2 linked regions of the Homo sapiens genome follow. The protein of the gene in region 1 purifies or fractionates together with the protein of each later gene. This does not show direct contact. Each region holds a gene or a part of one and is shown on either strand. Other genes may lie near its edges. The genes, in order: ZDHHC7 and REEP5.

Evidence for each region.
Region 2: the proteins of ZDHHC7 (region 1) and REEP5 purify together in Homo sapiens (affinity purification with mass spectrometry, with the first as the bait; one large-scale study listed by BioGRID). This does not show direct contact.

The regions. Positions count from the first base shown.
Region 1 is NC_000016.10:84,973,675-84,977,105, forward strand, and holds the end of ZDHHC7 (palmitoyltransferase ZDHHC7), read right to left. Parts: coding exon 3,421-3,431; intron 2,846-3,420; coding exon 2,669-2,845; 3' UTR 501-2,668; downstream 1-500.
Region 2 is NC_000005.10:112,901,517-112,905,540, reverse strand, and holds part of REEP5 (receptor expression-enhancing protein 5), read left to right. Parts: intron 1-3,022; coding exon 3,023-3,161; intron 3,162-4,024. UniProt on the Homo sapiens protein: Plays an essential role in heart function and development by regulating the organization and function of the sarcoplasmic reticulum in cardiomyocytes.

The sequences.
Region 1 (3,431 bases):
AGCTATTTTCCCCTGCTTCCATACCCAAGCCAAGTTCATGTACAATAGAAGATAGGATTTAGCCACCTTCCTATTTGGAGGATATTTTTGTTTTGTTTTAATGCAAGCGTCATCCTTCTATACAATGAGCCTACATAACAATCTAATATAAGGAATACAAATAATATTGCAGCAAAATTCGGCAGAGCCACAAACACAAGCTGGAGGGCTGCTGCCCATGCAGCCGCCCGGCTCAGGTGTGCGCCTCCGTGTTCGAGTCTCCTTCTCATTTCCGCGTGTCTGGAATGCCACCAGGAGCCCCAAGGCACAGCACGTGCGAGGCAGGGCTGCGGCACACACTGACCATCTGGCCTCTGAAAGGTAAGCGAGGCAGGGCTGCGGCACACACTGACCATCTGGCCTCTGGAAGGTAAGTGGGCATTTTGGTTCCCTCAGTGCAAATGTTAGACAAATTTGTTGAATGAATTAAAATCAAATTGTAGGTACTTGAGATTCTGAACTGTGGAGATTTTGAAACATTGTTTTTATTTCAACGTGCACTAAAAAAAGGACTAAGTAAAACGATGGGAGTCGAATTAAACATTCAACAAGCAACAGTACTCACTGGGCAACATTTGTGAGTCGCGCTTGAGTGCCCAGGTCACTTGTCATGGGCACAAAAGCATTTAGAGTTTCTGGAAACTGTTTGGGAGTGACCTTAACAGCCTGGGGCTGGGCCCACGAAGCACGGAAAGGCACCCCCTGAAAACACCACCATCCAGGAAGAACGGGCGCTTTGGAAGCCATTTGAGAACTGTTAATTGATTACTTTATTTCATATAAAAGTTACATTGAAAGAAGAGGTTGAAAAGTCAAGTATACTTGATTTGCACACACTTGCCAAGTCTCACAGGATTCAACCACTTGGATAATTGTTTTATTGATAACAGGATATACATATTAAAAGCCTCACACTGAAGCCCACACGCATGTCCAACCCAGACAACAATGTGCAAATGAATATGCAGAACAATCTCGGAAACTGGCGTCTCCAGGATCACCCACACTTTGTCCCTCTGGCTGTGACGCAGCTCTTCCCCCAACGGCGCACACGCTTCTGCGGTGACCAAGTCCACTTCCAAACCCCCTGCAGGTTTGCTCGCTTGGCTAGGACGGTGGCTCAGGTAGGTCCCTTTGTGGTTTTGCATCAGCAGTGGTAGAAGCCCTGATTCGGATGGGGTACAGAGTAATTAAAAACAAAAAACAGTTCACAGATGAACAGAAAGGCAAAACAATTCCCAGGAGGGAGACGCCAACTTCTCTTAGTGTGGAGGGCAAGCATAAAGGAAGACCCTCAGACTTTGTCACAGATTGCTTCTTGATGCGTCCGGCAAAAAATGTACAAACCAGGCAAGTTTAAGGCAAGGCCCCACGAGGGGAGCTGTTGGCTTTCTGGCATAATTTTAAGCTCCGCACCAAGGATCCTATTTTATCACCTGTGCCGTGGGTGGAGAAGAAAACGTAAAAGCTAACCAAAAACTCCAACAAGAGGGCGCCATCCTGGCCATTCCCGACTGGAGCGCTGCCTGCGGTGGCACAGTCGCCCCTGCCAGGGGCTGGCTGCCTCATGGTCCCCTCCCCTTCCCAGAGGTGCCCAATGGCTGGGCCCTGCCTCTCCAGTAAGGATGCCTCCCCTGCCCCACACACAGCATCGGGCTGCCCCAAGTATCAAGTCACCGAGCCGCAGCTCTGCTCTTACCTAGGTGCCATTTATACACTGCTAATTTGGCTGGAACAAAAAAAAAAAATCAGTTCCAAGGCCCTCAAGCACTCAAGATTTCTTTAAAAAATGAAAGCAGGAGGGCAACGAAGGGCCGCACAGGAACGGCTGTTCTTTGGATCGAGATGTCCTCCAACAGCAATACATTCATAGTAACCACGGGCAGGACCCCGCGGCTCTCTCCCCTCTTCCCTGAAACGTCGGTTTCTAAAAAATAGCTTGTTTGCTGTACACAGCCGGTAAATGTTACATTGCCTAAACAACACTGGCAATTTTGACACACATGCACACACGCGCGCACACGCACAGACACGCACACACACAGACTTGCTGAGAGGGTCAAAGGATGTCTCTTCCGGGGCAGCGGGGAGTGTGCCGGAAGCCACCTTCACTGTTCAGTGCACAGATCTTTTGCAACTTCAGTGCAAAGCATCGGAGCTAATCGAGACCAAAACGTCTTTCTATGTAAACGCCCTGCTGTGATCCGGGGAGTGCACTGCTGAGTGGCGGGGTCAGCAGGAGCCCCCTGAAATGACTGCTTGGAGAATCCCTGTTCACTGGATTCACTGTTTTTCTTCATGATTGGAAACAGCAGCTCAGGACCCAGGATTTGAATAACCCATGTAATAACCCGAAGTATTCTCCACAGAAGCCCCAGCTCTGCAGGAGGCCACGGCGTTTGGCTTCTTCGTGTGGCCACACACCTTTCCGTTGTTGTACAGGTGGGGACTGAGAGCCTCTTCCTCTGCCATCTGTGACTATAAATATATAAAACTCTGCTTGCTGCAAGCAATTGGTTTGTGTAGGTTCCAGTTGCCCTGTTGGTCACAGATGAGCTGTTGATATCCTTCAGACCCCAAATAAATAACTGGAAGTCTGTGAGCAAGTTTCAGTCTGATGAGCCACGCCTCACACTGAGAACTCCGGGCCACCTTTTCTGGGTCTCGTGGGCAGTCGCCTAAATCGGAAGCCCACAAAGGGATTCATCCAGAGGAGTGAGGGGGGCCCCCCAAAGACGGACTTCATCCCTTCCCATCGCAGCCTCCGCTCCCATGTGGGCTTCTCACTTTTCAATCGCTCGATCTCCTGGAAGCAGAAAGAAAAGCAAGTGGCAGCGGCTCCAGGAAGCTCGGCAGACCCCACCAAGCCTCAGAATCACACCGTGCTCAAGCACAGTGTGGGCTCGATGGAGGGTAGGTGAGTGAACTCTCCTTCCCAGCTCTGCCCCGATCCAGACCCCGTGGCCTCTGTGAGCCCAGCCCGGCTGCAGCCACGTGGCCAGCCCAGACTACCACAATGGCCCTCCCAGCCAGGCACCAACATTTGTCGCTCGTTAGTTACTGTGTACAGACATTTACTGAGCGCCACTCCAGGCCTGCAGAGCCAGGCCCTAAAGGCAGTCAGTTCCCTGAAATTTACTGACTGCACTGGGAGCTGGGAATCTGCCTGGCTCTGCTGACTTGCAAATCAAACTGAGACTAGAAATATGCACTGCCCAGAATGAAAGAAACAGCAAACACAGGGAGCTGGTTGCAGCTCATCAAGACCGTCCCATTACGTTCCCGAGTCAGTCCACAGGCACCTATTGTTGACATTAGGACTTTTCATTTACTCAAGCTTGGACCACATATGAAGTCCACACAGCCGAGAACAAAGCTTACCGTCTCGTCGT
Region 2 (4,024 bases), on another chromosome or scaffold:
GAGACCGAGTCTTGCTCTGTCACCCAGGCTGGAGTGCAGTGGTGGAATCTCGGCTCACTGCAACCCCCGCCTCCCGGGTTCAAGTGAGTCTCCTGCCTCAGCCTCCCAAGCAGCTGGGATTACAGGCATGTGCCACCACGCCCGGCTAATTTTTGTATTTTTAGTAGAGGTGGGGTTTCACCATGTTGGCCAGGCTGGTCTTGAACTTCTGACCTCAGGTGATCTGCCCACCTCGGCCTCCCAAAGTGCTGGGACTACAGGTGTGAGCCATTGTGCCCGGCCAGAAACCTCAGTTTTAAGCTTTTTTCTTCTCTCACCATGACTACATGGGGCACTTCACTTTTTTGAACCTCACGTTCCTGAGTGAGCTAGACCATCTCTTCCCTTTTTTCTTGTTTTGGGTAGTTTGTGATTGTTATGACACATAAAGACATTTTTTAAATTGAACATTGTGCTATTTTAAATTAAAACAATTAAATGCTTCAATAATATGAGAAGATCTATTAAAAAATCTCTTTAGCTTAATAGACTCATTGGCCTTTTCCTGGCTTCTTTCATATGCCTTGGTTTTCTGCAAAGTTGTGATCAGTGTATGTATTCAATTTGGAGTTCTTTTATTTCTACTTTTCAATGTTACTATATAGTGTTCTAGTATATTAACATGGGGACTTTAGAATTCATATTGTAGATATGAATTAAAAAAGAATTTTTTTTTCCTAGAAGAGCTGAACTGTTAGGCTTCCTGTTTTTCAATCTGTGGAACTTGACTAACATTTAAAAAATAATGAAATAGAATGGAATTTAAAATATCAGAATGGTTTCAGGAAATATCTATTTAAGTTTATATTTTTATGTGAAGATGTCTGTTTACTGGATCATGATGTAAAATGTATGCTTACCGAGGGTTGTGGCCAAAAGAATTTAAAAGCCACTGGATTAACAATGACAGTCCCATCACATTTTGAGGTTTTTACGTCATATTCTAGAAAAGACTGTTTAATTCCCAGGTGTGTCCTGAGAGTTGCTTCTTTTGGAAGTACATAGTTGTGAGCTATTGCGTTCACAAAACTAAGACCTTGAGTGAAATGTAATTACGTATCTCCTCTGCCCAGAATGAATGTACAGGAAACAAATTTTTATTATACTAATAATTAAATAAATCCAATTAAATATGGATAAGCCATACTATACCAAATGAAACACAGCGGGAGAAGAAATCTTACACATAAAGGATATACTGTGTTCTTTGGTTAACATGCTTGTCTACACTTTTCCTTTGGCCTTCTATTACATTCGCCAGCTTCTATCTGAAGGAAGCTAAAAAAATACAGACTTTGTGCATACATTACAAGCCATTTTTTAATAATCAGCTCTCTTAAATTCATTTTATATGATTCTTGTACTTTGAAATATTTGGGGCTGGGTGTGGGAGCCACCAGACTGCACTTTGGGAGGCCAAGGCAGGAGGATTGCTTGAGGCCAGGAGTTCGAGACCAGCCTGGGCAACACAGTGAGACCTTGTCTCTACTAAAAATTTAGCAAGTAGCTAGGTGTGGTGGTGTGTACCTGTAGTACCAGCTACTTGGGAGGCTGAAGTGAAGGGAATTACATAAGCCCAGAAGTTTGAGGTTGCAGTGAGCTATTATTGTGCAACTGCACTCCAGCCTGTGCAGAGACCCTGTCTCAAAAAAATAAAAATTTTGCCTAGTCTTGAAGTTCAAAGCAACATTCACCTTATTACTTGTTCCTCTCTCTGTCTTCCTCATTAGTAATCATCTCATTGAGCTACAATTTTTCCCCTTTTGGTTATTTTCTAAAACTCACACACATAGCTGCTTCTAATTAACTGTACAAGGGCTTTCTTAGTGAGTGACTGAGCATGATTTAGCAGCCTGACTGTCTCTTTGGGGAGCTGATGTTATGGAGTAGCCAATGTATTTGCTTTTTGAAAATTTTTTATTTCAATAGGTTTTTGGGTAACAGGTGGCGTTTGGTTACATGGATAAGTTTTTAGTGGCAATTTCTGAGATTTCGGTGCACCCATCAACTGAGCAGGGTACACTGTACCCAATGTGTAGTCTTTTATCCCTCACTACCCCCAGCCCTTTCCCCAAAGTCCCCATAGTCCATTGTATCTTATGCCTTTGCATCCTCATAGCTTAGCTCCCTGTCAATGTATTTTCAGTAGTTAACCTGTTTCATAGGCTAAACAAGATTCAGAGTTCTTTTATTTTACTGTTTCAGTCCAGCTCAGTTACGATAAATATCTAGATCTGTTAGGATAAGAAATTGTGGAGCTTCAGGTTTAGAATAATGAGATTCCTAGGACTGAAGGAAATTTCTGTGATTTAGAAAATTATTTTAAATGTATTTCCATCCATTTGCAGAATGAATTTTGTTTAAGCAATAGTTAGGGTTGGGAAAGTCCTGTTATTAACTGAGGAGAGGAGGAAAGTCCATAGCCTGTGGATCAGTTAAAGACATTCTGAACTAAATAGACACCATGAGGTTTGTTTTCACCCGTTTACTATAAAATATGCTGTGGATTTTGGGCAGTACCTAACCTATGTTCCAAATGTTGCTTTATGGGAAATTCTTATTCACCCATGATATATCTCAATTATTAAAAGTACATAAGAACCTGGTTATCACGAGAGAATTCTTCCTGATATATCCCTCGTGGCAGGACCCAGCTTGGGAGTGGAAATTGCTCTAGCTCCCAGTCACTAGTGGTATATTCTAGGACTTGTGGGGAGGCTTTGGCAGGGTGGAGATCCAGGGCAGTAACAGCTGGTGCTGGTTTCTCTGGTGACCAGGAGACTAGAAACAAGTGGTTATAATGGCTTGTCCCGATATCCACATTGCTTCCAGTCTTTAAGCTGTACTCTTGCATCTAGTGACACAGTGCCTACATGTGCCTAAGTTTCTCAGTGGTATCAGAGGACAGGTTATGAAAGTGTATTTGAAAATCTTTCATTGATATCTTACCAAATGATATACTTTCTTTTGTACTGCCTTTCAGAATTAAAGCTATAGAGAGTCCCAACAAAGAAGATGATACCCAGTGGCTGACCTACTGGGTAGTGTATGGTGTGTTCAGCATTGCTGAATTCTTCTCTGATATCTTCCTGTCATGGTTCCCCTTCTACTACATGCTGAAGGTATGTTGGTCTTGCTACCACTAAAACTCCATCTCAGTACCTGTATAGAAGAAGTAGGAATAAATGCTTGAATGTTGTGCATCTGTGGCTCTGTCTCAGATTATAAACAAGAAGACAGGCCTGGGCAACAGAGCGAGACTCTGTCTCAAAAAAAACAAAAACAAAAAAATGCTCAAGCAAGCCACTTGCCTCAGCCTCCCGAGTAGCTGGGACCATAGGCGCACACCACTGCACCTGGCTACTCTTTTAAACAATTTTATCTAAAGAAATTTAGATATAGGAAATTAAATATAGGAAGCTCCATCACTCCAACCACCATCATAAATGGTAGTATCTTGAGTTTTAGTTCTGGTTAATTATGGATATATAATTCTTTTTGTCTTTGGTCTTAGCCTTTTTTTTTTTTTTTCTTTTTTTGAGATGGAGTCTTGCTCCGTCGCCCAGGCTAGAGTGCAGTGGCATGATCTTGGCTCACTGCAACCTCCACCCCCCAGGTTCAAGCAATTCTCCTGCCTCAGCCTCCTGAGTAGCAGGGATTACAGGCGCCCACCACCATGCTTGGCTAATTTTTGTATTTTTAGTAGAGACAGGGTTGGTTTTTTTAAAAATCTATTTATTTGTACTTCTTCTGGGAGATTTCTCAATCTGACCTCCTTTTTTTTTTTTCTGAGATGGACTCTTGGTCTGTTGCCCAGGCTAGAGTGCCATGGTACAATCTCCGCTCACTGCAACCTCCGCATCCTGGGTTCAAGTGATTGTCCTGCCTCAGCCTCCCGAGTAGCTGGGATTACAGGCATGTGCCACCACGCCTGGTCAATTTTTGTATTTTTTTTGGTAGAGAAAGAGTTTCACCATGTTGGCCA